Homo sapiens: one gene and its partners. The protein of the gene in region 4 purifies or fractionates together with the protein of the main gene of each other region. This does not show direct contact. Each region holds a gene or a part of one and is shown on either strand. Other genes may lie near its edges.

Region 1 (3,500 bases), on a different chromosome or scaffold from region 4:
TGATTGTTTCCTTTGCTGTGCAAAAGCTTTTTAACTTGATGTGATCCCATTCTGGATCATATTGTTTAATTTCTATGTGTTTATATAATTTCCAAAATTCCTCTTGTGATTGATTTGTAGTTTTATTCCATTGTGGTCAGAGAAGATGCTTGATATTATTCCAAATTTTTTGAATGTTTTAAGACTTGTTTTGTGATCTAACATATGGTCTATCCCTGAGAATGATCCATGTGCTGAGGAGAAAAATGTGTATTCTGCAGCCATTGGATGAAATGTTCTGTAAATAACTATTAGGTCTATTTGTTCTGTAGTGCAGATTAAGTCTGACATTTCTTTGTCGAGGTTCTGCCTGGGAGATCTATCCAATACTGAAAGTGGGGTGTTTAAGTCTCCAGCTATTATTATATTGGGGTCTATCTCTTTAGCTCTAATAATATTTGCTTTGTATAGCTGGGTACTCCAGTGTTGGGTGCATATATATTTACAATCATTATGTCCTCTTGCTGAATTGACTCCTTTATCATTATATAATAATCTTCTTTGTCTCTTCTTACAGTTTTTGTCTTGCAGTCTATTTTGTCTGATATCAATATAGCTATTCTAGCTATTCCTGCTCTTTTTTCATTTCCATTGTCATGGAATATCTTTTTCCATCCCTTTATTTTTAGTCTCTTTGTATCTTTATAGGTGAAGTAAGTTTCTTTTAGGCAACAGATCATTGGGTCTTGTTTTTTCATCCATTCAGCTACTCTATGTCTTTTTGACTGCAGACTTTAGTCTATTTACATTCAGTGTTATTATTGATAAGTAAGGACTTACTCCTGCCATTTTGTTATTTGTTTTCTGGTGGCTTTACAGTCTTCAATTCCTTCTTTGCTTTCTTCCTATCTTCCTTTTAATGAAGGTGATTTTTCTCTGATGGTATGTTTTAATTTCTTTCTTTTTGTTTAATTTTTTGATATCCATTGTATGTTTTTCTATTTTACCATGAGGCTTGCAAATACTATCTTATAACCCACTATTTTAAACTGATGACAATACTGATTGCATATGCAAACAAACACACAGAAAGAAAACTAATAAAAACTCTACACTTTAACTTTGTTCCTTGGCTTTTAATTTTTTTTTTTTCTCTTTATATCTTATTGTACTGTCTGTGTCTTGAAAAGTTGTTGTAGTTACTATTTTTGATTGGTTCATCATTTAATCTTTCTATGTAAGATGAGAAGTTTATACACCACAATTATAGTGTTATACTATTCTGTGTTTTTTATGTGTGCTTGCTGTTATCAGGAAGTTTTGTACCTTTATATGATTTCTTCTTGCTCATTAACATCCTTTTCTTTCAGATTGAAGAACTCTCTTTAGTATTTCTTGTAGGACATATCTAGTGTTGATGAAATCCCTCAACTTTGTCTGGGAAAGTATTTCTCCTTCATGCTTGAAGGATATTTTCACTGGATATACTATTTTAGAGTAAAAGGGTTTTTTCCTTCAGCACTTTAAATATGTCATGCCACTCCCTCCTGGCCTGTAAGGTTTCCACTGAAAAGTCTGCTGCCAGACATATTGGAGCACCATTGTATATTATTTGTTTCTTTTTTCTTGCTGCTTTTAGAATTCTTTCTTTATCCTTGACCTTTGGGAGTTTGATTATTAAATGGCTTGAGTTAGTCTCTGGATTAAATGCTGTTGGGGTTCTATAATCTTCTTGTACTCAAATGTTGATATCTTTCTCTAGGTTTGGGAAGTTCTCTGTTATCATCCCTTTGAATAAACTATTTACCCCTATATGTTTCTGTACCTCCTCTTTTAGGCCAATAACTCTTAGATTTACCCTTTTGAGAATGTTTTCTAGATTTTGTGGGCATGCTTCATTGTTTTTTATTCTTTTTTCTTTTGTCTCATCTGACTATGTATTTTCAAATAGCCTGTCTTTCAGCTCACAAACTCTTCTGCCTGATCAGTTCTGCTATTGAGACTCTGATATATTCTTCAGCATGTCAGTTGCATTTTTCATTTCTAGAATTTCTGTTTAATTCTTTTTAATTATTTCAATCCCTTTGTTAAATTTATCTGAAAGAATTGTGAATTCTTTCTGTGTTGTCTTGAATTTCTTTGAGTTTCTTCAAAACAGCTATTTTGAATTCTCTGTCAGAAAGGTCGTATATCTCTGTTTCTCCAGGATTGGTCTCTGGTGCTTTATTTAGTTTATTTGAGGAGGTTATGTATTCCTGGATGGTGTTGATGCTAGTAGATGTTCTTTGGTGTCTGGGCATTGAAGAGTTGGGTACTTATTGTAGTCTTCACAGTCTGAGCTTGTTTGTGCCTGTCCTTCTTGGGAAGGCTTTCCAGGTATTCAAAGGGACTTGGGTAACAAGCCCAATAACATTGTGTCTTTTGTAGACTTGTAGAGGTACCACCTAAGTGGTCTTGGATAAGATCCAGAAGAATTCTCTGGATCACCAGGCAGAGACTCTTGTTCTTTTCCCTTACTTCCTCCCAAATAAATGGAGTCTCTTTCTGTCTGTGCTAAACCCCCTGGAACTGGGGGGTGTGGTGATGCAAGCACTCCTGTGGCCACCACCACTGGGACTGCACTGGGTCAGACCTGAAGCCAGCCCAGCACTGGGTCTTGCCCAGGGCCCTTCCCTTCAGGGCAGTAAGCTTCCTCAGGCCCCAGGCGTGTCCAGAGATGCTGTCTGGAAGCCACAGATTGGGGTCAAATACTTTAGTAGTTTACCTGATGTTCTGTTCTACTGCGGATAACTAGCACTCACACTACAATACAAAGTTCTTCTCACTCTTCCCTCCCCTTTCCACAGGCAGAGGGGCCACTCCCTGTGGCTACCACCACCTTTGGTCCACAGGGTTTCTGCCAGGCCACCACCAATATTCACTTAAAGCCCAAGGGCTCTTCCATCAGCTTGTGGTGAAAGCTGCCTGGCCTGGGACTTACCCTTCAGGGCAGTGGGCTCCCCTCTGGCCCAGGGTAGTGCTAGAAATGCCGTCCAAGAGTGTTGGCCTGGGCCAGACACGGTGGCTCATGCCTGTAATCCCAACACTTTGGAAGGCCAAGACGGGTGGATCACCTGAGGTCAGGAGTTCGAGACCAGCCTGGCCACCATGGCGAAACCCCATCTCTACTAAAAATACAAAAATCAGCTGGGCGTGGTGGAGTGCACCTGTAATCCCAGCTACTTGGAAGGCTGAGGCAGGAGAATCGCTTGAGCCCAGGAGGTGGAGGTTGCAGTGAGCCGAGGTCACGCCACTTCACTCCAGCCTGGGCAACAGAGCGAGACTCTGTCTCACAAAAAAAAAAAAAAAAAAAAAAAAAAAAAAAAAAAGGAGTGTAAGCCTTGACTTGGGGACCCCAAGAACCTGCTTGTTGCTCTACCTCACTGTGGCTGAGCTGGTACCTAAGGTGTAAGACAAAGTCCCCTTTACTTTTATCTCTGCTTTTCTCAAACAGAAGGAGTCTTTCACTGTAGCCACCACAG
Region 2 (3,500 bases), on a different chromosome or scaffold from region 4:
TCTTGAATTGAGGGATAGGATGAGATATATAACATATGTTATCTGTTGTTTTCTCCTACTGCTCTTGAAATTAACAAACTTGAGATAGTGTACTGATTTGTATTTATAAGATTGGCTGAGTTCAAATATGTCTTTTTGACGTTCTTACCAATGTTTAAAATATAGAAAAGTATAAAGAAGAAAATGAGTATCATCCGTAATGCCATCACTACAATGACTTTTTTAAAGCAAAATGTGTACTTTCCTTCTGAAGCTTTCCAACCTCCTTGCCTCCTCAGTGAGAATGATGACATACTGTTGTTAGAGTTGTTGAGGATCAAATGCAGTATTACTCATGAATGTTTCATAAACCATAAAATAATACAGTAATGTACTATTTTTTTTTTTGACAGCCTCACTCTGTCACCCAGGCTGGAGTGCAGTGGCACAAACTTGGCTCACTGCAGCTTCAACCTCCCAGATTCAAGCCATTCTCCAGCCTCAGCTCCCCAAGTAGCTGGGCCTACAGGCGCATGCCACCATGCCCAGCTAATTTTTGTATTTTTTGTAGAGACGGGGTCTCACCATGTTGCCCATGCTGGTCTGAACTCCTGAGCTCAAGTAATCTGCCCGCCTCCACCTCCCAAACTGCTAGGATTACAGGCATGAGCCACCATACCCAGCTGTATTAGTTCTTGTTCTATAAAGCTTTTTTTTTTTTTTTTTTTTTTTTTGAGGTGGAGTCTGTCGCCCAGGCTAGAATGCAGTGGCACAATCTTCGCTCAGTGCAACCTCTGCTCCCAGGTTCAAGCAATTCACCTGCCTCAGCCTCTCGAGTAGCTGGGATTACAGGCATGCGCCACCACGCCTGGCTAATTTTTTTTGTATTTTTCTTAGAGACGGGGCTTCACCATATTGGCCAGGCTGGTCTCGAACTCCTCACCTTGTGATCTGCCCGCCTCGGCCTCCCAAAGTGCTGGGATTGCAGGCGTGAGCCACCTTGCCTGGCCCTATAAAGCTTTTATTCTCCTATGGCATTGCTTAAGAATCCCATTAAAGTATGAATAAGGACTAATAAATAATTGTGAGTTTTGATTAGTGTAACAAATGAATTACCTAGATCAGTATTTTCAAGGTATGGTCCAAGGAATCCTGGAGGTCCCCTAGACATTTTTGGCGAGTCTACAAGTGCAAAACTATTTTTATAATACTGAGACATTCTTTGCCGTTTTCTTTGTAGTGACATTTGTACCTGTAGTATAAAAACAGTGGTGGATAAAACTTCTGGCGCTTTAGAATAAACCAGGTTAGAGTACTTCACTGTCCTAGTAATCATTGTATTATTCACTGCCATGCACTCAGATTTTTTTTTAAGTTTCACCTAAATGCTCTTGATGAAGAAGTAAAAAAATTTTAAACTAAATCTCTACCTTTGTACACATCTTTAATATACTGTAACAAAATGGGAAGTATGCTTAAAACACTGGCGAGGCCATGGACAGCAAGCCTCCCAGCACTTTGGGAGGCTAAGTCCAGCTTGGGCAATGTAGTGAGAGCCTGTCTCTCCTATTAAAAAAAAAAAAGTTAGTGTGGTCATGCACATCTACAGCTACTCTGGAGGCTGAGGTGGAAGGATCTCTTGAGCCCAGGAGTTGGAGGCTGCAGTTAGCTGTGATCGTGCCACTGCGCTTCAACCTGGGTGACAGAGCAAGACCCTGTCTCGAAAAACAAAACAAAAACACTTGGCAGCATACTGAAATATAATGGTTGTTTCTAGGGAAAGTATTTGTGTGATTGAGTCACACGCTGAATCAATCTTCATATAATGCCATTTTTGCTTAAAAGAATGCCAGACTTGGGCATTAGGCTGACATTTTCTTGAAAACAGTGAGGCTTTGCTTTAGGGAAAATAGTGGTAGTATTTATGGTCGATGATAAAGTTCCTAGATTTTAAGCAAAAATTTTAGAAAGCTTGTATCAGCTGCTGTAAGTATATAATGAAATCTGTCATTATTTGATTATCTGCATAACTGAGTCAGTATTTCCAAATGATCAATGCATAGTATTATAAAAATCATACATGGGTAAGAAATCTTTACAAAGTGTCAGCTAGACCAATGGATTTTAATGTTATAGAGAACATAAAAGTTTATCAATAAGGTATCCTGTTCCATATTGCAACCAATTGCTGAGCTTTGGTGTAGTGTCAAAGACCAGTATCCAGATTTATCTGAAAATGCTATTAAAATATTCCCAACTGTCTAATGTATTTTGTATTACTTATTTTTCCATGCTTTGCTCTCAGTGTTTAATGTCTTCTTTGATTTATTTTGTTTATATTTTTGTTGGAAACAGGAATGGGAGCCATAGATAAATGTGAAGCAATGTTTTCATGTGCTTTATCTTAAAATCTCCTATTAATATATAATCAGTTTAACTTCTTTGTAGTCTTCTCTGTGCATTCCATTCAACTTTTGGTCTTGGTAATGGATTAGATAATAGTTATTTTTAAGCCTATTTTTGGTTTTAATATTTGTTTTGTATACCTGACTGCTCATCTATAGACAGAATTCCCTTGTGTCCAAAGTCTAACATAATCCTTAAGTAGATTTTTAGTAGTTGACTTTCTCAGTTTTAAAATATTTGATAACTTTTCCATAGTAAAGCTGTAAGTTTCAAGTTTAGTAATGTCTTTTTGACCTGAGAATTTGGTGTGTTGTCTTACCTTAAGTAGACACTTTTCAAAAACACACCTGTAGAATGATCCTTTTTTTACCTTTCAGGAGAATGCTGTTTCTTGGTGGTGGTGGTTTTTTTATTTTTTTATTTTTTTTTATTTTTATTTTTATTTTTTTTAAGACTGAGTCTCTCTATTGTCACCCAGGATGGACTGTGGAATGCAATGGTGCAATCTCAGCTCATTGTAACCTCCTCCTCCCAGGTTCAAGCGATTCTCTTGCCTCAGCCTCCCAAGTAGCTGGGATTGCAGGCACCACCACCATGCCTGGCTAATTTTTGTAGTTTTAGTAGAGACAGGGTTTCACCATATTGGCCAGGCTGGTCCCGAACTCCTGACCTCAGGTGATCCGCCCACCTCGGCCTCCCAAAGTGCTGGGTAGAGCCACTCTGTGGCCTTCTTTTTTATGTTAATTTAAAAACATTTGTAGCAATCCTTGTTAAACTGTTTTTATAAACTCATGGGATAAGTCCAAATTTTATTTTCCTTTTCTTTTTTTTTTTTTTGAGACAAGGTCTCACTGTCATCTAGGCTTGAGTGCAGTGTCACAACCACGACTCACTGAAGTCTCGACCTCCCGGGCTCAGTTGATGCATCTCAGCGTCCCAAGTAGCTGGGACTACAGGCGCATGCCACCACACCCAACTAACTTTTGTAGAGACAGGGTTTTGCCATGTTGCCCAGGCTGGTGTCAAACTCCTTGGCCTAATCGGTTCTTCCACCTCAGTCCTCCAAAGTGCTGGGATTACAGGAGTGAGCCACCGCACCGGTCTGGTTCCACATT
Region 3 (2,598 bases), on a different chromosome or scaffold from region 4:
TGTTTTATAAGGAATGCTTTTATATTGTTGCTTAAACAGGAATATGCCAATTTACAAGTGAGTGAGCCCCAAATCCGAGAGGGCATGAAAAGGGTAGAACCACAGACTGAGGACGACCTCTTCCCTTGTACTTGCCATAGGAAAAAGGTAACCAGAACTGAGCTTATGGCCGGTGTCAGAGTAAAAACTAACATTGATCCAAACTTGCTTTTATTCCTATAGTCATTCAATCAGGCAGCAAATATTTGAGTTCCTCTCGAGGTCTCCAAGCAATTCAGTCTGCCAGAGAGATAGGTATAAAAGATAGCAGTGCTCAAGAAAGGATGCTACAATGCAGTTAATTGAGAAGACATGGTAGCTCCCTGGCAAAGTGGGGGGAAGTCTTTTATAATGTGAGAATCCAGCTCACACCCTATTTGAATGGATGCTTACAGTCTGAAAAATATTTTCATGTGTATCATCTGATGCCCTCATCTCCTCATGAGATAAGTTTGGCAAAGTTCATCATCCCAGTTTAGAGAAGGAAAAATATGTAACCACGATTATTAATGTTTTCCAATTCTTCATTTGAAAGTCATCTCAGTTGATACCACTACATAAGGATCTCATTGATAAAAATGAAAGTCAGATTCACATCTGGACTTTTAAGGTAGAAAGGACCTTAGAAGTCATCCAGTAAATGCCTTCATTTTATGGTTAACAAAACTGAGCCCAAAAAGGAATTGTGCTCAAAATCATCTAGCTGGATTATAGCAAAGCAAAAACCAATCTCTCATCATCAGATTGTGATTGTGTGTGCTTGTATATAAAGCTATAGTGTGGCAGGGGACTGTTGCTTTGATTATGATTTTTGTTTGTTTGAAGGAATGTAAATTGCATAAACTAGAGTGTGTGTGTGTGTGTGTGTGTGTGTGTGTGTGTGTGTGTAACATATGCTGACTTAACATTTTAGGCAACATAATTAGGTTTCTGAATGGACAAGTTCAAAATTGTGGTATTATAACCAAAGACAAGAAGGCAGATTTGGCAATTATTATGTCTACCTCTCAAGGAGGTGTAAAAGGAATTAAGGTGAGGCTGGCCCCAGTGATGTGACAGAACCAGCTTATATGAGCTCACTGATAAATATTCAGGAATTTTGCATACTAGTTAAATTTTTGGTAGCTTGGAATCATCCTGATAGGAGTATTTACACCATGACAATCAGCACATGCTACAAATCAGAATTTTGGCTGTTTTATTTTTGTCTTTGTTTTTTATAGAACTCATTAACCACTAACCAACTGGCCCTCAGAGGTGGTTCGTCATCATTGTGAACTCTGTCAGTGCTCCAAGGCCATAAAAATCAGTTAAAACCAATGATAAAACAAGAATTGCCAAATCGAAAGGTTCCCCCTCACCAATCCGTGATTTGGTATCAGAACACTTCTCACTTTGGCTCTAAGTGAGACTGGCAGCTTCCTTGCTCCACTCCTGCTCAGTTATTTATCTTCATCTACGTGATTGAGAGGAGGTACCCAGCCAGTTTCTTCCACTGAGTAGTAGAAGTTAGGGGCCAGAATGATAGCTTCGTTTATTTTTTGCTCATTGTCTATCCTAGTCTTTCACCACTACTGTTCATAACATGAGGCCTTTACAGTAGTACAGCCCATGGATGTTTGGGTTCCTTATCAGTAGGCTATGAAACACAATGTGATTTTACCCTTAGCTGACTCTGGGCCTCTGGAAATAGTCCCAAGCCCTAAAAGCCTCTAGCAGCAGCTTGGCTCCCTCTCATCTTTACAGGAAAATAATTAACGAATGTAAGTCTTCTTCACTTGTGTAAGACTTCTTGATAGCTCTAAATATTTTGCTTCTTAATTGCAGACCAAAGATGAACTCTGATATGCAAAATAACTTCTATTAGAATAATGGTGCTCTGAAGACTCTTCTTAACTAAAAAGAAGAATTTTTTTAAGTATTAATTCCATGGACAATATAAAATCTGTGTGATTGTTTGCAGTATGAAGACACATTTCTACTTATGCAGTATTCTCATGACTGTACTTTAAAGTACATTTTTAGAATTTTATAATAAAACCACCTTTATTTTAAAGGACTACGTTGTGCTAATTATTAGCCGTGTTTGGAACAGAGAGCAGTAAAAACAGAGAGAATCTGGGTCCTTAATGCACAGCAGCCCAGACCACCTGCCCAGACTGGTTTTAAATGACAAAGCAATGAACCCCTGTCTCCTTTTAAGCCCATATTATTGTGGGTATTCAGCCAAACTTAATTCTAGCTAATACTTCGTACAAGGCCAGTCATTAGATGGCCTCTACCTGCATCTTTAGTCAAATCTCTCAGCACTTTCTAGTATCAATACTGTCCTCTGGAAGAACGAGTCCTCTCCCAGTTCTGTCAATGCCTGTGTCCTTACCTTCCTGGCTCTTGCCTTTCCCTTGTCCTGGAATGTCTTGGCCCTCTTTTCTTCAACCGGCTTACACATCCTTCAGCACATATTTTATCCTTACTAGATTTTAAGTGCCATGACCTCAGAGACCAGGCCTTTCTTCTGGGTAGTCCTAACGTCTAATAGAGTGCCAGCAACTAGAAAGA
Region 4 (2,678 bases):
GGCGCCGCTGGGTTAGGGTCTCCACGACTGAGCTGATCTCAGTATCTACCACATTCTGCTTTATTCTCTTCTCTAGGGTAAGAAAAATCACAATACATGGGTATTCAATAAAATTCAATTAATTTAAGCCTGACTCTTGAGAATGTGCAATTGAAGGTTATGAATGTGTCACACCTAAGGTGGTGGTAGAAGTCTCTGGCACATGGAAAATGCCTGTTTTAACTTTTAGCTATTTTTTTCAGGTTTTTGTCATTAGAATATTTCTTCTGTTTCTACTGCAAATAACTATCAAAAAGGAAAAGAACAACTAGGATGGCCTCCCCTGTTTATCATTGGCCCTACAATTTTCTAGGAGTAATATCTTTTTGGAATTATGTAATGTCCTCTGCTAATGACAGTGTATAGATGCTATTACATTTCCTTGGGGGACAAAGTACTGTTGTCTGGAAGCTTTGAGATTAATGTAACACAAAGTAAATAAGGAAGCGTTTTGCATATTCTTAGATTTTTACATTTTTATTTTAAAACAGAGAATTTCATATTGATTAACACCTACTACTAAACAGAATGATGCATTAATTAAATGCCTTGTCCTAACTGTTATAAGCTCTGTTAGAAAAATAAACATCTCACCACAAACTACAGTGTCAGCTCTTTAATAAATACATAAAACAGAAGTTAGTAGTCAATCAGAGTTATATGAACAGGTTCATAGTATATTATGTGAAAGTATCATATTCTCCAATATTCTGTATCATTTAAGACAATTTAAGTTACGTATAATTCAAAGCCAGAAATAATAAGAAATATGTTCAGTGATAATTTGCTTCTTTCTTAGAGCTATTTTATATTCAAATATTTAATTTAAAAATATATTCTATATTAAATTTATTTTTACAAACGCAGTATTCGTTAGGTGAAACAAAATAAGTTTTTATGTTACTGATAAGTTTAATACATTTCTAATTTTTTTCAGAAGTTCAAGAAACCATAATGAAGTAGCTAATGTAAAATAGTTTAAAAGCTATGTTAAATATACACAAAATGAATTTCTATATTAATATGTGCAAATGTATATTTTCTTATAATTTAGAATTAAAGTACTTTATACTCAATATTCTTAATAAAATTTATGTACCATACTTGTCATTGCGTAGACTTCTTATCAAAATTTCACATTTATCTGTAGGAAAATGTAAAGTTGGTAAAAATTGTTTACACAAATCACACATTTTCCATCCTTGACAATTGCAGTGTTTTTTTTTTAAATATTGCTGTATTAGACAATTTTAACTGAAGTAGGTTGTAGAGGCTAGAAACCTGATTAATAGAGCAGTATTAGACAATTCTAACTGAAGTAGGTTGCAGAGGCTAGAAGAAACCTGATTAATAGAGTTAGCTTACAAAGATAAATTTTATGCAGAAAAGTATTCCAGGTAGATAAAAGAGTAGTGTTATTACTCTCAGGTTTACATTAACAGCTGCCCAGATAGCTGAACAATTATTTCATATAATTCAAATAATTTAAATATGCAGTTTTATAACAGTCGTTACATAAGCTTGAAGTTAAAGTGATCAGAGCCAAGGGGGAAAAACCCACAAATGATAAAGAAGAATAAAAAGTAAGAGGACTCTAGAAGAAAGTTGTTTTTCACAGCACTGATTGTTTTTATCATATTTTTCTCCTGCCATTGATACAAGACATGTAAGATGCTGCAAAACCTAACTATGACAGTTCCATGTAATATTTTTCCAGTTAATTTTGTTTAAAAGTGAGATGATAATATAAAAGGATCTCATATAATAGAATAAAAATAATAAAAATTTGTTAATGAAACGTAGACATACCTACCCATTCTTGTTAGTTAAGTTAGGGTTTGCTGAAATCATTCGCACTCACGTAAAGTATAAATGGGGACCTGAAAGAGCTTTTGTAAACTCAAGATATGCGGGATCTGAGCTGATAATCAGTTAGGCTCCATGTTGAGTTGTGCGTGACTCAGTTGTCCTTAAATTTCGCCTTCATATTTTGTCATAAATGGGCTCTCAAATCTTTATAAGAAAACAAAATTTGCCTAGATGCATAAACATTTAGGTAAAGTTGGATTAGTGTAATATTTATTCAAGCATAATTTTAAACACTGCATCTGAAGTGCCAACAGTTGCAAGAAATGTCACAATTTCAGAGATGTTAAATTGAAAAAGTGATGTCTTGGAATCAATGAAATATAAATATGGATATGTATAATCAGTTATACATAAAAATTTGCTATAGAGGAATTATAAAAGAAAAGGAAAATTATTTGAAAGAATGTTAGCTATATCTCAGTGGTCTGCATTGCATAAAATGGAGTTCTTGAGGTCAATATAAATAAGGATAGTTGTAAATTAAATATTGAGTCAACATAACAGAATGCAATCTGCACATGATTGAGCTCCCATGTAACTATATTTCACTTGATACTTTTATGAAAACATATATATTCCAAATCCTTCAAAATGAAAAGAAGCTCAAACAGTTGTGAAAATTTAGAATTCTTAGATTTTAATGGGTCTGTCTTTGTTCAGGGGCAAAGACTCAAATGAGCTTTAAGATCAATTAAAGATGTCTGGAAATGAAGAACTTCATTATACCATTAAATTCAGTTATTTTTCACTATTAGGCTTATTAAGCTTGA
Region 5 (3,500 bases), on a different chromosome or scaffold from region 4:
TGACATCTGTCTCATTCCTGACATTTTTATTTGTCTTTTTTCCCTCATCAGTCTGACTAAAGGTTTATCAATTTTATTGATCTTCTCAGAGAACCAGCTTTTGTTTTATTTTTACTCTTTATTTTCTATTTCAGTGATTTCTGCTCTGCTCTTTCTTATTTTCTTTCTTTTGCTTCCATTACATTGGGTGTAATTTGTTCTTCTTTTTCTATCTTAAGTAAAAGCTAAGTCATTGATTTTTCTTTTCTAATGCAGGTATTCAGTGCTATAAACATCCCTCTACCACTTAAATCGCATCCTACAAATTTTGATGTGTTTTTATTTCATTTGTTATATAAAATTGTCTAATTTTCCTTTGGATTTTGTGTTATCTATTTTTAATTCTATTGTGGTCAGTTAGGATTAGGGTTAAACATTAGGGTTAATTAAACATTTTATTTTAATTGCATCCCTTTCAACTCACTGAGACTTGTTTTATGGTCCAGAATATGGTCTATTTTAGTAAATATTCTACGTGCAATTTCAAAGAACAAATACTCTGAGCTTTTTGTAGTTCATAAGCGTGATGACTGGGTGTACACACATGTGTAAGATGTACCTCCCTCACACCTCGGTACAACATTGGCATATTACCCACCCCACATGAAGCACATTGGATACAACACTGGCACATTACCCATCCAACATGAAACCAAAGAATGTATATTCTGCTGTTGTTATATAAACATCAATTAGGTCAAATTGTTTGACAGTGAAACTTTGCATGGCAATTTTAACTTGAATTAACACAAAAACTTGAAAAAGTAAATTTTAAGTTCTAGGCGATACTGAAAAACAAAACATCCAGAATTCCACCAAATCCCTTAAAATACTCCACTTAATGGAATTTAGGTTAATAAAATCACTGAAGGAATATATTTCATGTCAAGAGATGATTAATCTATTGACCTAATTTAGAGAATCACAGCAGGTTAGAGCTGAATGAATCTCAGAGACTAGACCAAACGTCTATGTTTCAGTAACTCTGAAAGAATACAAGATGTGTGCGGGGCATCACACTCAATTTGTGACCACACTGCTTCACTCTGTGTTATTGTTTACCTGCTCCACTGTGCAAAAAATGTGAGCATCGTCCTGCTGGAAGCGCCTCACTCTGGTCAAGCCGCTGAGAGTCCCCGACAGTTCATTTCTATGCAGAACTCCAAAATCAGCAAATCTAATAGGCATTTCCCTCCAAGATCGTGGACGATGGGCAAACATTAGACTAGAAAAGATGTGGTAACACACAGCTTTTACACAGCACAGAAATATTAAATAATTATCTAAATATAAAGAAATTACAATTAAGCCTCAAGATTCATAAACTCCTTATTCTAGTTCTTAGATCACCAGGTTAAAAAAAAAATTCTTCCACAAATTAGTGAACCTTGCATTTACATCACTGCAGCACTCTGAGAAAGATGCTTGTCTATTATCTCTTCCCAGAAATGCTGTTCCCTCCCCTTATCCACACAGTGAATCACCATTTACTGTTTATGATTCATTTCAAAGGCTACTTCTTAAATGAAGCCCTCCTAGACATTTCCCAGACAGGGCTAGGCAGTTTCTCCTCACGTTCCTGGAACACCTCAAACATGCCATCATTATGGCACTGGTCTTTTTATAACAGATTGTCTACATGCATGGCCCTGCCCACTCTGCTCATGAGTTCCATGAGGGAATGGTTTGTGTCTTAATCACCTCTGCACTTCTAGCTCCAAGCACAAAAAGCACTCAACTATGTTCTCTGTTGAATGAAAGACTTCTCTCCTGCAGAAAGCACTCCTAGCTTCCATATCCCATTGCCTCTAAGCCACCGTGGTCTTGCTTTCTTATTCTGAGGTGTAAAAAGACAAACTTAAATTCTCTACTTTCATTATAAAGTACGAGGCTATAATTTTAAAGGATGCCTTTGAGAAGATGAGTTAAGAAATTGTTAACACAAGTGTTTTACAATGCAAAACACTAGCATAGCTTCTACCTTCTGTTTAGAAAGAGAGGATACAGAATGTTTACATACCGGTGTTCCTAAAATTAAAGTTATATATATTTTTTACATGACATCATCATAAAGTTAAATTTCTTCTCATCTTCACTTAAAAGGGCAAAGAGCTTTCTTCAGTGTTCAGTTACCGGTTTTAATAATTATCTTCTAGGTAAATTTACTTGAAACTATGTATGTTGATAATACAAAAACTACAATTGTTGGGATTGTTTTTTGTGGACAATTATGCCTATTCAGTTTCAGTTGTACAATATGTTTGTCTTACAAGGTTGAATTTGCATACCAACTTTATGATAATTAGTCTTTCATAGAATCAAAGACAGCATTGATTGTAAAATGTATCTTCATTTTATGTGCTACAAAGAAAGAAAATAACCTATTAATTAAATTATGATATAATGCTAAGATGCCACCAACTATAAGATGCATTTCAACTTCAGAAATGTTGAAATGTGGAAGAAAAATGGTATCTTGGAATCAGTGAAATCCAGAAACCCATTGATTATGACCTCATTGATCTTGTTATAATCCACCCAAACAGTATGAAAGAACTAAATATTCTGCAAATATGAACATGTGAAGTGCATTACTATAAGAAAGACAAATATTATAAAACTTATAAAATTGACACATAACATTATCCTTTAATCAGCACAAAAAAATGCAATGGTTACCAGCTAACATCCCATACCTGCCAAAGATCAAATATATTTTCAAAAGTAAATCCATTCTCCGGAATGAAACAACTTAGTAAAAATTAGTAATCACCACTCTTCAGATTAAAGGGACTCTTTCATTCCACAAAGCATTAAAAGATAATTGTGACGAAGCGTGCTATGTGCTCTCATGAAAAGGTCTGCTTCGCTTTTAATACTCACCAGTGCCCTGGACAATTCATGGGTTTGAGGGCAAAAGTGTCCTTTTCAATCTCAAAGGTAAACATGTTCTCGCTGTAATGCTGCCAGTGGCCTGAGGCTTCCCAGAGTTTACTGTTGTACATATTGGGAGAGAGCACCTCCGTGAAGTCCCGTTTGTGATATTCCTCCTTCAAGATACATGCATTCAACATTAAAATCTGCTAGGGCAGATCACAATTCCATGCAAAGTAACACTATGAGCAAATATTTTCAAATTGGGCTCATGTCCTATATTAATTCATGATTAATGTACCCTCAGTTTTAGGTGTGGTGGTTTCTGGATCTTGGAAGAAAGATTTACATATGCTTAGTATAATTTCTATTGAGTATATTTATTTTATAGCATATAACAGTATATAGTATATAATGTTTTAGTTCTTTGAAAAGTAGTAATTGAAATACAATATATATAGAAACTCACTGTAACTACTCCAAAGTCCTTCTAAACAGGTTTTTTCCTATTAAGAGGCAGAAAAAATTTATAATTTAATAAGCCTGAATGCCATGTTGCATGTTATAATTTTGATTTATTTAGTTTT
Region 6 (3,500 bases), about 130 Mb from region 4:
TGGAGTCCTTCCTTCCTTCTTTCCTTCATTTATTTATTTATTGAGTTTCCTTCTGTTGTGCAATGGCGTGATCTCGGCTCACTGCAACCTCTGCCTTCTGGGCTCAAGTGATTCTCATGTCTCAGCCTCCCAAGTAGCTGGGATTACAGGCGTGCAGCATGCCCGGCTAATTTTTTGTATTTTTAGTAGAGACAGGGTTTCTCCATGTTGGCCAGGCTGGTCTCGAACTTATGGACTCAAGTGACCTGCCTGCCTTGGTGGCCTCCCAAAGTGCTGGGATTACAGGTGTAGGCCACTGCGCCCAGCCTTCCTTTGTATTTTCTAACTGGTGGTTGTTTGCATAGATGGCGGCTTTTGATTCCCATTTATTAATATTAAACCCACACACCTTACTGAATTATTTTATTAGCTGTAGTAAATTTTGTCAGTTAATTATTTTGTGTTTCTCACTTATGCAATCAAGTCACTTGAAATGATGATAATTTTACCTATTTTCCAGTTAATAAGCCTCTAATTTCTCTCTCTTAACTAGTGGTGTTGACTAAACCACCAGAACAACGTTAAATGATGATGGTAATAGTATATGTGATTATCTTATTCTTGAATTCAACAGGAATACATTTCATGTTTTCCATTTAAGCATTATACTATCTTTGAGGTTGAGGTGGATATATCTGATCATGCTAAGAAAATAGGCATCTATTTCTATTTCACTACAATCTAGTTATTATCCAGATGGATATTGAATTTTGTTGAATCCATTCCAGTAGCTGAGGAAATGGATTATGACTTTTCTCTTTAAATCTATGACCACCAAGAACACATCTGCAGTTGAATGGGGTTGGGTTTATCGGCTCCTTGCAAGGAGGAGGAAAGTAAACCAAAAGGAACTATGGGATGTCTCACAAGAGGGTGTTAAAAAGGACTCTTTATAGGACAGGGCTTGTTTTAGTAGATTTGGGGGAGGTTGCAAGAAAATGGGGATTTCCTCTCAATGGGATGATGTCGGGAAGTAGGGGCAATTCTATAATTGTGTATATTTTAGATAATTCTTATGGAGAAGACGAGAAGAATAGAGTGAGGCTAAAGCTATGACGGTGAAAAGCATTAGTCATTTGTATCAGCCAGGATGGGGAGGTTTCCTGCGGTTTGGATAATGTTCTTGTTTTGTCTGTGCTCAGAGATCATTATGGAGTGGTCTGATCTCTGCCAAAAGACACGAGGGATTTCTGGGAGCACCACAAGCTAAGACAAAGACATGGAACAGAGTCTTTCCTAGAGCTTTCAGAGAGAGTACAACACCTTGATTTCAGACTTCTACCCTCCAGAACCGTGAGACAATACATTTCTGTTGTTTTAGGCTACCCTGTTTGTGGTATTTTCTTACTGCAGTCCTGGAAAACTAATAAAGATGCCAACTTTAAAGTATACAGAGTTGCCAGTTGCGGTGGCTCACGCCTGTAATCCCAGCACTTTGGGAGGCCAAGGTGGGCGGATCACGAGATCAGGAGTTCAAGACCAGCCTGGCCAATATGGTGAAATCCCATCTGTACTAAAAATACAAAAATTAGCCAGGCGTGGTGGTGCAGAGCTGTAGTTCCAGTTACTCGGGAGGCTGAGGCAGAAGAATCGCTTGAACCCGAAGAGCCGAGATCGCACCACTGCGCTCCAGCCTGGGTGACAGAGTGAGACTCCATCTCAACAACAATGGCAACAACAACAACAAAACAAAGAACATACAGAGTTTTTCAAGATTCTTCTGGGGGCCCGTGAGCCCAAAAATTTGCTTTAGATCAGTGTTTCTCAAAAGCTTACATAAACCATGTGATTCTCATGCATTTCACTCCCTTAGGGGTTTATTTTAAAAGTCATTTTCTGGGCTTCTTCCAGACCCACATAATGGGTGTGGGCCCTGTATTCTGCATTTTCAAACAAGTTTCCCAGGTTCTTCTACATCCCAAAACACTGCTGAAGTAGGAAGATACCTGGGCTGTAGACAAAAATTTGGATTTAATCTTTACCCAGTCTATTACTGAGCAAGTCTTGTCAATTTAGGCAATTTAAGAGTTAAAGTGTACACTCTACTGGGAAAATCCCCGGTTCCAAGTCGAGTGACTCTGAAATTTATTCACTGCACAGCATTTGTAAAATTGCTTCTTCTTTTTTTTTTTTTTTTGAGACAGAGTCTCACTCTGTTACCTAGGCAGGATGGAGTCCAATGGCGTGAGCTTGGCTCACCACAAGCTCCGCCTCTCAGGTTCAAGCGATTCTCCTGCCTTGGCCTCCCGAATAGCTGGGATTACAGGCATGCACCACCATGCCTAGCTAATTTTGTATTTTTAGTAGAAACGGGGTTTCTCCATGTTTCTCAGGCTGGTCTTGAACTCCTGACCTCAGGTGATTTGCCTGCCTCGGCCTCCCAAAGTGCTGGGATTATAGGCATGAGCCACCTCGCCTGGCCCAGAACAAACTTCTTAAGGGTCTGTCTAGCTCTGACATTCCACAAGGCTATGAAATGGTCCAGGAAGAGTTAGGGCAGGATGGCAAATTCAGGTGCCTTTGACTTTGGGAAGATGGAGGCAAAGCACTTTGTCCATCCAATTACTTTGTATTTATTTATTTATTGTTTGTTTGCCCAGACTCCAGTCTTGACAATTACTCTGCATTTTAAAACACTGTTGGGGCTAACCCTACCAACCTCTCCCCTGACCCGAGACAGAGTTAGCAGCTAATGTAGCTACTTCCCACTTTCTGTCACCCCTGCAAACAGGGCAAACAGGGATGCTGTATCTGGAAGCTCTAGGGGCAGGAGCCAGTCCTATTTATCCTTTGTAAAACACCTAGCAAAACGAGATGATTTTAGGTCAACCCTCCTGAAACTTGGCTTGGCTGCAGTGACAAGTTTTGTACCTACAGGAAGATCAGCATTTCCTTCCGTTCTTCCTCTGCCAATCCATCCCTGACTGGTCTTTTGCCCTCTTTTGAGTAAGAAACTCCTTGTTTTAGAGTGTTTCTGGATTAACGCTGGAAAGGGACCAACTCTGAGCCCATAGTGTGGATCCCATGTAACAGTACTCTTACCAGAAAAGGGGTTTCACCCCAGACCCCAAGGGCAGGTTCTTGGATCTTGCACAGGAAAGAATTTAGGGTGAGTCGCAAAGTACAGTAAAGTTTAAATGGTTTATTAGAAACTAATCTATTAGAGTAGGGTATCCTCAGGAAGCAAGAGGAAGAACGCCCTACCTCAAATGTAATGCTTGTTTGTGTAGGATATTAGAGCTAAGAATAGTGTATTTTATTACAAAGGCTTGTGATCGGCTTGTGACAGACTATCTGTATTGTTATTCTCTTGTGCAATTAATTTCAGAAAGAATTTATGAGTGGACTATTATCTTTAGAGCAAAATATAGTTTAAATTAAGAATGCCTTTTTCCAGGCCAGGCGCCATGGCTCAAGCCTGTAATCCCAGCACTTCGGGAGGCTGAGGTGGGTGGATCACT
Region 7 (3,500 bases), on a different chromosome or scaffold from region 4:
TTTCAGGCTTTCAGGTATAGGCTGGGTCACTAGTCTTAAAACATTTCTTCTTGAGAATGTCTAAAAGACTGTGGAATCTGTTAGATCTTATATACTTTTAAGTTGGCACCTGAAACTTTTCATCCTAGATTTACATAGTGTAAGTATTTAATTTTAAATAGTTTAGGATGTAATTTCTGACAAGTAAATATTGACTTCTTAAAAATAAATATAAAATTACCTAAATACAATATCAATTTGATGTTGTAAAAACATACAACTAAACTTTTGAAACAAAGACTGTAAGAAATACATAACATAGCTTATTACATTACTTGATTTTCAGATGTTAAACCCATCTTGCATTTGTGAAATGAACCCTGCTTAGTAATGTATCTACTACTTTTTACATATAGATGGATTCAATTTGCTAACATTTTGTTAATTTTTGTGACTGTGTTCATGATGGATATTGGTCTGAGGTTTCCTTTTTTTTATGTCATCTTTGGCCTTAGTAGCAGGGTAATTATGACCTCATAAAATGAATTGGGAAGTGTTCCTTCCTCCTCTGTTTTCTGAAATAGTTTGTGTAGGATTGGTATTATTTCTTACGTGTTTCATAGAATTTACCAGTGAAGTCCTATGGGCCTGGGTTTTTCTCTCTGGGAAGATTTTACTAATTCAATTTCTTAATATAGTTAGTTGAGTTAGTTTTGGTCATTTTTATCATTTTGGGAGTTTGTCCATTACATATTTTTCCTTTTTCTTTTTGAACTTGTATCCATTCCACTTTTCCCACAGAATTTTATCCTAAAGCAAAAGTCAACTTTCTGTCAAAGGCCAGATGAAAGGCTTTATGGGCCACATGGTTTCTGTGATTACTGCTTAATTCTCACTGTAGTGAGAAAACAGCCATAGACAATATGTGGCCGGGTGCGGTGGCTCACGCCTGTAATCCCATCACTTTGGGAGACTGAGGCAGGCGGATCACGAGGTCAGGAGATCGAGACCATCCTGGCTAACACAGTGAAACCCCGCCTCTACTAAAAAATACAAAAAAAATTAGCCGGGCGTGTTGGTGGGCGCCTGTAGTCCCAGCTACTTGGGAGGCTGAGGCAGGAGAATCGCTTGAACCCGGGAGGTGGAGGTTGCAGTGAGCCGAGATCGCTCCACTGCACTCCAGCCTGGACGACAGAGCAAGACTGTCTCAAAAAAACCCAAAAAAACCCAGAAAATAGCCGTAGATAATATGCAAGTATTTTTGTGTAGTTGTGTTCCAATAAAACTTTATTGGTAGCAGACCAGATCTGGTTTAGGGCTGTAGTTTTCCTACCCATCCTAAAGTAATAAATTTTATGCCTGAAAATTTAAAATTGATCATCTAGTTATCCACACAGATCAGGTTTATGAGAGTAGCATGGAAGTTGATTCCCTTGCTTGCATATCTTTGTGTACCCCCTACGGACATGTGTATTCCAGTGTAAAGACCAGGACTTGATTTCCAAGATGTTGTAGAGGGAATTCATGTATTTTTGTAATTTTGTTTGGGTGAGAAGTGAGGTGGCCCTCACAGCGCCATAACTTAAGTTCCCTATGTGATCGGTATTCTTTCTGGCAAAAGGAGACATTTGAACTAAAATTTTTTATGTTGTAGACACTATATGGATTATCTCATTTAATCTTAAAATAATCCATATAGTATCTTAAAATAATCCATATAGTATCTTAAAATAATTCATATAGTGGTTCTATGAGATAGGTGTATAATTGGCATAATTCCCTACAGATGAGGCAGTTGAGACTCAGATTAGGTAATTTGCCCAGGTCGTAGTGCTGGTTAGTAAGGAAGTTCAGAAGTGAACCAGGGGCTGTGATGTCTGATTTCATTTTTTTCTTTTTTTTTTTTTTTGAGACAGGGTCTTGCTCTGCCACCCAGGCTGGAGTGCAGTGGTGCAATCTTGGCTCACTGCAACCTCCGCCTCCCAACACTTCTGACTAATTTTTTGTATTTTTTCTAGAGACAGAGTTTTGCCATGTTGCCCAGGCTGGCTTTGAACTCCTAGGCTCAAGCGGTCAGCCCTCCTTGGCCTCCCACAGTGCTAGGATTGCAGACACTAGCCACCTGAGGCGTGAGCCACCACACCCAGTGTGATTTCAGAATTTTATTCTCTTTTCACCGTGCTGCCTTTTATGGAAGATATGGGTTTAGTACTGGATTTAGATAGGGGATTGTGCTGGATTTCTTTTTCTGAGGCGGGGTGGGGGTGGAAACAGTCTTGCTATGTTGTCCAGGCTGGTCTGAAACTCCTGGCCTCAAGTGATCCTCCTGCCTCAGCCTCCCAAAGTGCTGGGATGTAGGGCCTGAGCCATCATGCTGGGTTGCATATTTTCTTTTAAGATCTCTGCCTTTCCCAATATTTTGATTAAACAAACACCTTTCCTGTTGTGTGGAACAATTCCTAGTTTTTCAGAAATCTATAACTACTCACTCATCCACAGCTGTTAATTATAATTGTTTTTAGCAGGCCAAGGGTTGTTTATTGGATCTGAATGCTGTGAGTTGTCTGATGTGGCACAGAGATGGAGGTAGCTAGATTTGTAATTGGCAACTTGTTTATTTGTAATTTATGGATCATTTGGGCGCTGCCTTAGTAATATAATAGATGGAAGAGTGTTTAGCGCTACCTGACTTTGTTATCCAAAGGCTTATCAGAATAATGATAAAGTCCCATTACTTATCTGGCATTCAGTAGTCTGGAAATCCTGATAGTTCAGCATTTGAGCAAAATAGTCCCATAATTAAAAGTAATCTGGAAAATCTTGATTATGTCACATCTGTGGCTCCCTTCCTAGCTACACAGATTGTTAGGATAGATTTTAATAACAAGTTGGCAAAATAAGTGTTGGTTAGCTAGCTGCACAAACATTGCATTTTTTTGAAATATTTAACATTGTTGAATACTACACAGAAAAATTAGTTTTTTTTAGAAGTGGAATTGTTTGAAGGATTTATTGTCATGAATAGGCTTTACAGGGAAGATGTATTTTTTTTTATTGTACATCAAATCCTGTCAGCAAACTTACACTAGTAATGTATTAATGAGATGAAGGATATTCCAAAGTAGCTAGATTTGTAATTGGCAACTTGTTTATTTGTATAAGAACAAAGTGGTAAATGAATTAAAGTATTCTTACCTGGAGGTGTTTAAGAAATGGAGGCAGGGCCGGGCGCAGTGGCTCACGCCTGTAATCCCAGCACTTTGGGAGGCCGAGGCGGGCGGATCATGAGGTCAGGAGATCGAGACCATCCTGGCTAACACGGTGAAACCCCATCTCCACTAAAAATACAAAAAATTAGCCGGGCGCGGTGGCGGGCACCTGTAGTCCCAGCTACTCAGGAGGCTGAGGCGGGAGGATGGTGTGAACCCAGGAGGCGGAGCTTGCAGTGAGCTGAGATAGTGCCACTGCAGTCCGGCCTGGGCGAAAGAGCGAGACTCCGTCTCAAAAAAAGAAAAAAAAAA

Evidence for each region.
Region 1: the proteins of ITGB8 (region 4) and L2HGDH purify together in Homo sapiens (affinity purification with mass spectrometry; 2 studies listed by BioGRID and IntAct, with this or other methods). This does not show direct contact.
Region 2: the proteins of ITGB8 (region 4) and RAP1B purify together in Homo sapiens (affinity purification with mass spectrometry; one large-scale study listed by BioGRID and IntAct). This does not show direct contact.
Region 3: the proteins of ITGB8 (region 4) and POGLUT2 purify together in Homo sapiens (affinity purification with mass spectrometry; one large-scale study listed by BioGRID and IntAct). This does not show direct contact.
Region 5: the proteins of ITGB8 (region 4) and TARS3 purify together in Homo sapiens (affinity purification with mass spectrometry; one large-scale study listed by BioGRID and IntAct). This does not show direct contact.
Region 6: the proteins of ITGB8 (region 4) and ACTR3C purify together in Homo sapiens (affinity purification with mass spectrometry; one large-scale study listed by BioGRID and IntAct). This does not show direct contact.
Region 7: the proteins of ITGB8 (region 4) and EDC3 purify together in Homo sapiens (affinity purification with mass spectrometry; one large-scale study listed by BioGRID and IntAct). This does not show direct contact.

Annotation. Positions count from the first base shown.
Region 1 is NC_000014.9:50,249,730-50,253,229, reverse strand, and holds part of L2HGDH (L-2-hydroxyglutarate dehydrogenase, mitochondrial isoform 1 precursor), read left to right. Parts: intron 1-3,500.
Region 2 is NC_000012.12:68,617,399-68,620,898, forward strand, and holds part of RAP1B (ras-related protein Rap-1b isoform 1 precursor), read left to right. Parts: intron 1-3,500. UniProt on the Homo sapiens protein: GTP-binding protein that possesses intrinsic GTPase activity. Contributes to the polarizing activity of KRIT1 and CDH5 in the establishment and maintenance of correct endothelial cell polarity and vascular lumen.
Region 3 is NC_000013.11:102,783,781-102,786,378, reverse strand, and holds the end of POGLUT2 (protein O-glucosyltransferase 2 isoform 1 precursor), read left to right. Parts: intron 1-39; coding exon 40-147; intron 148-1,866; coding exon 1,867-1,884; 3' UTR 1,885-2,098; downstream 2,099-2,598. UniProt on the Homo sapiens protein: Protein glucosyltransferase that catalyzes the transfer of glucose from UDP-glucose to a serine residue within the consensus sequence peptide C-X-N-T-X-G-S-F-X-C. Can also catalyze the transfer of xylose from UDP-xylose but less efficiently.
Region 4 is NC_000007.14:20,413,577-20,416,254, reverse strand, and holds the end of ITGB8 (integrin beta-8 precursor), read right to left. Parts: 3' UTR 501-2,678; downstream 1-500. UniProt on the Homo sapiens protein: Integrin alpha-V:beta-8 (ITGAV:ITGB8) is a receptor for fibronectin. It recognizes the sequence R-G-D in its ligands.
Region 5 is NC_000015.10:101,682,974-101,686,473, forward strand, and holds part of TARS3 (threonine--tRNA ligase 2, cytoplasmic), read right to left. Parts: intron 3,090-3,500; coding exon 2,923-3,089; intron 1,265-2,922; coding exon 1,102-1,264; intron 644-1,101; exon of another isoform or gene 542-643; intron 1-541. UniProt on the Homo sapiens protein: Catalyzes the attachment of threonine to tRNA(Thr) in a two-step reaction: threonine is first activated by ATP to form Thr-AMP and then transferred to the acceptor end of tRNA(Thr).
Region 6 is NC_000007.14:150,317,046-150,320,545, forward strand, and holds part of ACTR3C (actin-related protein 3C isoform a precursor), read right to left. Parts: intron 1-3,500. UniProt on the Homo sapiens protein: May play a role in the suppression of metastatic potential in lung adenoma carcinoma cells.
Region 7 is NC_000015.10:74,689,525-74,693,024, reverse strand, and holds part of EDC3 (enhancer of mRNA-decapping protein 3), read left to right. Parts: intron 1-6; exon of another isoform or gene 7-139; intron 140-3,500. UniProt on the Homo sapiens protein: Binds single-stranded RNA. Involved in the process of mRNA degradation and in the positive regulation of mRNA decapping. May play a role in spermiogenesis and oogenesis.